Regions from separate parts of the Homo sapiens genome. Here region 1 is linked to region 2. Evidence: fine-mapped expression QTL. A gene starts in region 2. The other region holds a variant in brackets. All regions are shown on one strand. Distances are from middle to middle.

Region 1 (4,368 bases), 21 kb before region 2:
CCCCCTGAGCACGTGTGGGACTGGCTCTTCCTGCCAAGCCTCAGGTTTCCCAGCTTCACGGCCGTTCCAGCCCGACATTCTCTTTGGCTAAGGGGCTAAGGTAAACTTAACATGACCTTGGCATGACCCTTGCCCGGGTGAGGACGTCCCCCTGCCCTGGATGTGCGCTTGAGGCCTTGAGCTGCTCTAAGGGCCCAGAGCCGAGGCGAGTGACCAGTGCCAGGCTTGGGACAGTGATGGAGCCAGAAGGGGGCTTGACCAACCCAAGGGGTGGGTGGCACCAATCTCTGCTGGCATGGGGGCAGCGAGGGTCCTCCCCAGCAGAGCTTCGTGGAGAGCAGGGGTGCTGAGCTGAGCAGGGATGCCGGGGCCGTCTGTGGAGGGCACAGGGCAGACGGGCAAGTCCTCTGGCAGCCAGCTTTGCAGGTGCCAGAGACCCCTGGGAAGGGGCCCACGCAGAGGCTCTGCAGCGCCTGCTGAGGATGCACGGAGCTGAGGTGGTCGGCTTGAGCCTCGTGCCGTGAAGGCGCCATGGAAACGTGGGGGCGGGGGCGCCGGACAGGGTAGCCGGGCCTTGTCACCTGATGCATCCCCGGCTGGCGGCCATTGGTATTCCCTTAGCAGCTGCTTGGAACACGTTTCTTCTCTGTCCTGGAAAGCTCCGCAGAGCGACAGCTGCTCTGTTCCCCGCAGGGTGGAGCCACCGGGTGAGGGCCCCGGCCGGTGGGGCGTGGCTGCTTAGGGACTGGCCTTGCCGCCCCCTGGTGGAGAGGCCTGGCGTTGTGTCTCTGTCCTCTGCCCCTGACCCTAGGCAAGCGGGTTGGGGTGAGGAGGGGAGGCCTAGGCCAGGGTGCCAGGGGCCGCTGCCTGCTGGGGCCTCCTAGGAGGACCCTTTATGCCTCACTCCTTCTTAGAGGGTCTGTGAGGGCTCCCTTGCCTCTGAGCCTCCGTTGCATCCCAGGTGGGGGTCCCATCCCAGTCCTGCTCACCACCCCTCTGGTTTTTGGCTCTAGGTGGTCTTTGGGAAGAAGCTTCCTGCCTTTGCCACCATCCCCATCCACCAGCTGCAGCATGAGAAGAAATATGATATCTACTTTGCAGATGGAAAGGTGTACGCATTGTACAGGTGAGCAGGGCCTCTCCCTGGGTCCTGGCCTCCCTGTGGTTGTGGCCCTTCACGTCCCACTCTCCTCACAACCGGAGGCACTTCGGGGGCCACCTGGTGCACCAATGCTGGGGCCAGGCACCTGGGTTTCCATCCTGTGACTGGGGAGGCTTACCAGGCCCTCCTGGGGGTAGAGCTGGTGGTTGTGCTGGGGAAAGGCATGCCCAGGTGGTGCAGCACCTGCCTCGGGGGCACCTTGAGGGGCACACGAGGTGTGTGAGCCAGGCCCGTGGCCTGAAAATCCTATAAAGGGTACAGCTGTCCCAGGGCTGGTCTCTCAGAGGAGGGGCAGCTCATGGGCTCAGGGCTAGAGCCAGGCTTCTGACCCAGGCCATGTGCACAGCCATGGCCTTGCATCTGTCCTGGGTCACGGGCCTGGGGCCTGGTGAGTGGCCCTGCTCCCGGCGGTGACACTGAATGTCCTGGGGCCGTGGGCGGCTCTCGGTGTCTTCCTAGGCAGCTGCTGCAGCACGAGTGCCCGCGGTGCCCCGAGCTGCCACCTTTCAGCCTCTTCGGGGACCTGGAGCAGCACATGCGGAGGCAGCATGAGCTCTTCTGCTGCCGTCTGTGCCTCCAGCACCTCCAGGTGTGCCCCCCCAGCGACCCCGGAGAGAGCCTAGGCGGTGGGTGGTGCAAGGGATGTGGCCACACGGCTGGGAGGGGCTTGTCCACCTGCTGCTTCTGGCCCCGGATGGCCCCCTGAGGGTCAGGCTGCACGTGGCAGGGAGGCCTCTGGCTGCTGGCGGGGCCCTCTCCCGCCCCTTGCTGCTC[C/T]GCCACTGGCCTGTGGGAAGAGGCAGGAGGCTTGGGGTCCCCCAGCCTGTGCCCAGCCTCCTGTGCCTTGTAGATCTTCACATATGAGCGCAAGTGGTACTCGCGCAAGGACCTGGCCCGGCATCGCATGCAGGGTGACCCCGATGACACGTCGCACCGTGGGCACCCGCTCTGCAAGTTCTGTGACGAGCGCTACCTGGACAATGATGAGCTGCTTAAGCACCTGCGCCGCGACCACTACTTCTGCCACTTCTGCGACTCGGACGGGGCCCAGGACTACTACAGGTGGGCCGGGCAGCAGACAGACAGATGACCCTCCCTCCCCGAGGGCGTGGGGCTAACCGGGCTGCAGCCCTCCTACCGACACCCCATCTCCTGCCAGCGACTATGCCTACCTGCGTGAGCACTTCCGGGAGAAGCACTTTCTGTGTGAGGAAGGCCGCTGCAGCACGGAGCAGTTCACCCACGCCTTCCGCACCGAGATCGACCTCAAGGCCCACAGGACGGCCTGCCACAGTCGCAGCCGCGCCGAGGCACGCCAGAACCGCCACATCGACCTGCAGTTCAGCTACGCGCCACGGCACTCGCGCCGGAACGAGGGTGAGCAGGCACCTGGCCTGGATGCCCCCAGGTGGGGCCGCATGACCATGCCCTGCTCTGGAGCCTGAGATGAGACCGAGCTGTGGGTGCAGGAGCTGACCTCCCACCCTCCGGCCAGGCTGGAGCGCCCGAGCACCCCTTGTGTGCCAGGAGCTCTTGCTCCCTCAGGGTCTCGGGTCTGCTGCCCTGGGTGCCCGGGGCCCTTCCCTGGACCAGGAGGCTTTTACTGAGCATCTGCTGTATGCAGATCCCACCTGGGGCTCGGGGACCCTCCTCCTCTCCCTTCCCACTGCTCCTGTGGCTTGGCACCCAGGTCGTAGAGGCCCGTGGCTGGCGTGGACCCTGCGAGGCTCCTGTGCCACTCCCGGGCTCATGTGCACTGTGGGTAGGAAAGCCTCTGCCATCCAGGCCTGAGCATTGGCCGGGTGTGGCCTTGACGGCAGGCCTGTTCCTCCTATTGTCGTCCCGGGGTCCCGGGAAGTGACGGGCTGTCTGCTGGCCGCAGGGGTCGTTGGTGGCGAAGACTACGAGGAGGTGGACAGGTACAGCCGCCAGGGCCGAGTGGCCCGGGCTGGCACTCGCGGAGCCCAGCAGAGCCGCCGAGGAAGCTGGAGGTACAAAAGGTGGGGGACCTTGCGTGCCGCTGACATTCTCCTGTGGTGACCGTGGCCAGTGGCCAAGCTGGGAGTGGGGATGGGGTCAGGGATTGTGGCCAGAGTTCCTGGGGTCCTGAGTGGCAGTAGGGTCTGTTGAGGGTCCTTGGTGGGCACAAGTTTCTCTCTCTTTTCTCCAGTTCTAGCCACAGCCACAGATCCCAGGGTTGGGGTGGGTGAAAGGGGCCTGTGTCAATTGGGCGGTCACCGCAGCTGTACGAGGAAGCACCGCCCCGGCAGCCCTGCAGGGCAGAGGCATCAGACCCCAGATGATCGCCCCACACACTGGGCCCAGGCACTGCCCGCCTGAGGCATTGGTCTCGGGCCATGCTCAGCCTGAAGGCTGGCCTCCTTGTCCCAGGGAAGAAGAGGACCGAGAAGTAGCAGCTGCTGTCCGGGCCTCCGTGGCCGCACAGCAGCAGGAGGAGGCTCGCAGGAGTGAGGATCAGGAGGAAGGCGGTAGGCCCAAGAAGGAGGAGGCAGCGGCGCGGGGACCTGAGGATCCCCGTGGCCCCCGGCGCTCACCCCGGACTCAGGGCGAAGGCCCAGGTGAGTAAGCCCTACCTGGTGGCAGCTCTGCCCGGGCTAGGAGGTCAGTGGCTAGCTCTTTTTTTTTGTTTGTTTGTTTGTTTGTTTGTTTTTTGTGAGACAGACAGAGTCTCACTCTGTTGCCCAGGCTGGTGCAGTGGCGGAATCTTGGCTCAGTGCAACTTCTGCCTCCCGGGTTCAAGTGATTCTCCTGCCTCAGCCTCCCGAGTAGCTGGGATGACAGGTGCCTGCCCCCACGCCTGGCTTGTTTTTCTATTTTTAGTAGAGATGGGGTTTCACCATGTTGGCCAGGCTGGTCTCAAACTCCTGACCTCAGGTGATCCGCCCACCTCAGCCTCCCAGAGTGCTGGGATTATAGGTGTAAGCCACGATGTCCAGCTTAGTGGCCAGCTCTTGATGGGCACGGTGCCTGGGACGCTCCAGGCCTTCACCTGGGAGGTTGAAGAGCACCCTGCACTGCCAGTCCCCAGAGGGCCTGTCCCCACACCCTGACCTGACCTGGGGGCCTTGTGTTCTTCATAGGCCCCAAGGAAACCTCGACAAATGGTCCTGTAAGCCAAGAAGCCTTCTCGGTGACAGGCCCAGCCGCCCCAGGGTGTGTGGGGGTGCCAGGGTGAGAGTATGGGCGCC
Region 2 (4,308 bases):
AGTGCTGGGCAGAGCAGGGAACACAATTCTGTTCCCTGACCTTCTCTGTTCATAATCCAGTGGTCAAGACAGGAAAAAAAAACAAGGACTCACACTCATAAATGTTCACGTACAAACTGGTGGGTCCATGCAAGGGTGTAGTAAATCTGGAAGGCCTCCTTGAGGAGGTGACCCTTTCTGAAGGATGAGGAATCAGCTGAGGAGCGCCTTCGAGACCAAGCCCAAGGTGGCAGGGTCTTGGCATTTTGCAGGAACAAAAACGCCAGTGGGACGCTAGGGAGGGTTGTAAGGTGGGAGGGGAGATCCAGGGACGGACAGGGGCCCACCAAAGACTTGGTCGGCAGCTTCGGGGATTGGGAATTTATTATAACGGTAGGAGGGAAGATGCTAGACAGTTTTGGGCAAGGTTACCCAATCTGATCCCATTTCAGTTTGCTGCAGATTCCGCTGGCTATCATATGGGGAGTGGATTTCTTTTTTTTTTTTGAGACAGGGTCTTGTTCCGTTACCCAGGGTGGAGTGCAGTGGCGCGATCTTGTTCACTGCAGCCGCGACTGCTTAGGCTCAAGTGATCTCCCACCTCAGCCTCCCAAGTAGACTACAGGCACACGCCACCACGCCCAGCTAATTTTTGTATTTTTGGGGGGCACAGATGGAGGTCTCAACATGTTGCCCAGACTGGTCTCGAACTCCTGAGCTCAAGCAATCCCCCTGCCTCGGCCTCCCAAAGTACTTGGATTACAGGTGAGGCACTGTGTCTGTCCTTGGAGTGGATTTTGTAGGGGCAAGTGAGGAGCATACAGATGGAGGGTGGGGTGTACTATTCAGGCAAGAAAAGAGGGTAGGGGAGGAAAAAGTGGAAACCATGCAGGGCTGATGGGGTGTGGGGCAGGAGCTGTCAGCTGGGGTAGGCAGGTGGCCTCAGAATCCCTCTAGGCCTCTGCTTGTGAATAAATCCTCCCCAGCTTCTCCTGTCTTCCAGGGGAGCAAGGTCTCCCCTGGGTTCACACGCTGGACCCCACCAGGTCAGCTGGGCCCTCAGCTGAGACAGGGAGAAGGTGACAGCTGGCTGGGGGAACCCTGCAAATCAGCCCTATGTGAGCAGGTGTTCATTGCCCATGCCAAGACCAGGGACAGCTTGAGGGCATGAGAGAGAGTGCTGGTGGGACAGACACACAAAGGCCCTTTGTTGCAGCCAGGGCAGCTTCCTGGAGGGATGCCTTAGAGGCTGACTGCTCCCTGAAGGGGCTGGAGTAGGTGCATCCCAACACAGAACTGGTGGCCCCAGCACGAGGAAAAACCACTGTGTGCCAGGGTTGAATGTGGCTTCCGAAGCCCGAACTATAAGGAAGCAGCCAGAGAGGTGGGGCACCTGGGCGAGCCTCTGCCCAGGCCATGTTTGCAGTAAGTCATGGCAAATCGTGAATTGAGAGGTGGTTCTCAAAACAGCCCTAGTGACCACTTCCCTGACCACCACCCCCACCCACCAAATGCCAGTGACTGCACAGATGGGCCCTCTTTCTCCTACCCCAAGTCTCCTCACTGCAGGGGAACCCCTGGGGTGAGCCTGTGAGGTCTGCCCCTCCCCCAGCATGTATAGAACAGCTCACAATAATTACGCATTTAACACACATTTCCTCCTCTATGAGTTGGGGACATTAAGAGACCTTTCCTCCAGCATTAGGATTAAGTCAGACAAAGCACTTAAAGCTGTAAGCACTGAGTCCTTGGTTCTGCACAGAAATCCCCAGGCCAGTTCAAAGTTGTTGGGCGCACCCTGGCAGGGCAATTACCTCACAGGGTAGGGGAATCCAGAGAGGTGGGCAGGACAGGTGGCGCTTTGATTAGCCCTGCCTTCTCCTCCCTCCTCCTGTGGCCAGAGGCAGGCAGGAGGGCCCCAGGCAGCAGTCCCGCCTACCCTTCGCCCCTTCTTCAGTCTTGCACGCCTCCAGGGCTGGAAAGCTCATTCTTCTTCTTCCTCCCAGCAGCTCTGCCTGGAAGTCCCCCAATCCCTGTGCTCCTGCCCCCAGATCGTGGGCTTGGGGGACAGCAAGAAAGCTGCAAAGGACTCAGCTGGGGCGGCTCCACAAGGACCCCACAGGCTTGAGGTGTTGCCAGGATTCTATCCCAGGGGGTTTTCTGGGTCCCCCAGAGCCCTCTCAAGCACGGGGAGGCAGAAGGGTCCTCGCCCATTTCAGGAATCTGCAGCCTGGAAGCCACAGCCATGGCAGGCCCCCGATACCCAGTTTCAGTGCAAGGGGCAGCCCTGGTGCAGATCAAGAGGCTCCAAGTAAGACCTGGCTGGGTCCTTAGTGGCCCCAAGGGATAGGAAGGGGGTGCCTGGACCAGCACCTCCACGGCACTCCCAACTTTTTGTCCCCCAGACGTTTGCCTTCTCTGTGCGCTGGTCAGACGGCAGCGACACCTTCGTGCGCAGGAGTTGGGACGAATTCAGGCAGCTCAAGGTGAGTGACCCTGGGCCACCCTGATGCCGCGGTGGCGGCTTCCCCACGCGGCTGCCTCCCACTGGACTGCCTCCCATCAGTGACTCCCACTGGAGGCCCTTCGTCCCTGCTGAAGCTCCCAGCCCCTGCCATCCGGGTGAGGGACCCCGCCCTCTCAAGGGTGCACAGTGGGCTCTGGAAGACCAATGCCCTGGTTCCCGCCCTCAGAAGACCCTCAAGGAGACCTTCCCGGTGGAGGCGGGCCTGCTGCGGAGATCTGACCGCGTTCTCCCAAAGCTTCTCGGTCAGGCCAGCCTGGGTACGGGAGCGGGGAAGGCGGTGGCTTGCCTGGGGGCGCCAGGGACCAGTGAAGCCCAAAGCGGCGTATCACAGTACGTTTTTGTGGTGCCTTAAGATGCACCACTGTTGGGACGCGTGGGGCGCACGAGCCGCGGCCTGGCGCGCCTGCAGCTGTTGGAAACCTATTCTCGGAGGCTGCTGGCGACTGCAGAGCGCGTGGCACGGAGCCCGACGATCACTGGCTTCTTCGCACCGCAACCCCTGGACCTGGAGCCCGCGCTGCCACCCGGCAGGTGCCTGACTCGCCCCAAACTCCCAGCATGCAGCGGCGTTTGGAGCTGGGAGAGGTCCAGGGTGGGGGGGAACAGCCAGCGAATAGGGGCAGAGAGTGGGAGGCTGGCGGTCTTGCCGGGGTGGCGCCCCCAGTTTCACCCTCCCCATCCGCCTACCTCTCACTCGTACGGGCTGCCCTTCCCAGCCGGGTGATCCTGCCCACCCCAGAGGAGCAGCCTCTTTCTCGCGCTGCGGGCCGCCTCTCCATCCACAGTCTGGAGGCTCAGAGCCTGCGCTGCCTGCAGCCCTTCTGTACCCAGGACACGCGGGATAGGCCTTTTCAGGCGCAGGCCCAGGAGAGCCTGGACGTGCTGCTGCGGCACCCCTCAGGTAGGGCCCCCCAAGAACCCAGGGATTTGCTCCTCTGCTCCTGGACCCGAGGGAGCCTCGAGATTTGAGTCCCTGCCCGCTTCTTGCGCACAGGCTGGTGGCTGGTGGAGAACGAAGACCGGCAGACCGCCTGGTTTCCAGCGCCCTACCTGGAGGAGGCGGCCCCGGGCCAAGGCCGGGAGGGAGGCCCGTCCCTAGGGAGCAGCGGTATGCGCCTAACCCCACCCCTCACGCCACCACTGCGGCTTGACCGTGTGGCAAGACTGGGCCAGAAGCACCGCGGGCAGGGCGGGCCAGGAGCCCGTGCTTGGTCTCCGCACCTAGAGGAAGCCCCGAACCGGTCTTAGAGCGGCCCCGCCGTCAGCAGACTCAAGCAAGGAGAATGTGGAGAAGGGTGCGGGCGGGCCTCGTCCTCTGTGGCCCCGCGGTGACTCCAAACACCCACTCCCACCAGGTCCCCAGTTCTGTGCTTCCCGCGCCTACGAGAGCAGCCGCGCAGATGAGCTGTCCGTGCCCGCGGGGGCGCGCGTGCGCGTGTTGGAAACGTCAGACCGCGGCTGGTGGCTATGCAGGTACGCGGGAGCGGGCGTGGGCAGGGCAGGCTAGCCGAGGCGGGCGGGGCCCTAACCACACCCCGCCCCTCGCAGGTACGGCGACCGGGCGGGCCTACTCCCCGCGGTGCTGCTGCGGCCGGAAGGGCTGGGCGCTCTCCTGAGCGGGACGGGGTTCCGTGGAGGAGACGACCCGGCGGGTGAGGCCCGGGGCTTCCCTGAACCCTCCCAGGCCACCGCCCCTCCCCCCACCGTGCCCACCCGACCTTCGCCGGGCGCCATCCAGAGCCGCTGCTGCACCGTCACACGCAGGGCCCTGGAGCGGCGCCCACGGCGCCAGGGCCGCCCTC

Evidence for each region. PIP is the estimated chance that this variant, and not a neighbour inherited with it, causes the effect.
Region 1: its variant is the best candidate, but not a certain one, in a credible set for the expression of NOXO1 in whole blood (TOPMed, PIP 0.54).

The regions. Positions count from the first base shown.
Region 1 is chr16:2,000,374-2,004,741 of GRCh38, reverse strand. ZNF598 (zinc finger protein 598, E3 ubiquitin ligase) reads left to right here. Exons shown (of 14, transcript NM_178167.5): 4 at 1,014-1,126; 5 at 1,622-1,751; 6 at 2,010-2,221; 7 at 2,319-2,536; 8 at 3,042-3,159; 9 at 3,551-3,738; 10 at 4,261-4,351. Among named protein-coding and RNA genes, the nearest start is that of ZNF598, 7.3 kb to the left of the region's middle. RefSeq lists a silencer at 632-701. The variant C/T (reference allele first, on the strand shown) is at 1,937.
Region 2 is chr16:1,979,096-1,983,403 of GRCh38, reverse strand. NOXO1 (NADPH oxidase organizer 1) reads left to right here and starts at 1,935. Exons shown (of 8, transcript NM_172167.3): 1 at 1,935-2,290; 2 at 2,385-2,465; 3 at 2,673-2,748; 4 at 2,860-3,037; 5 at 3,223-3,407; 6 at 3,501-3,614; 7 at 3,862-3,979; 8 at 4,055-4,308. The coding sequence starts at 2,225. TBL3 (transducin beta like 3) reads right to left here. Exons shown (of 22, transcript NM_006453.3): 22 at 475-4,308. RefSeq lists silencers at 480-672, 2,882-3,176, 3,969-4,088 and enhancers at 1,959-2,018, 2,495-3,074, 3,075-3,652, 3,653-4,232, 4,233-4,308.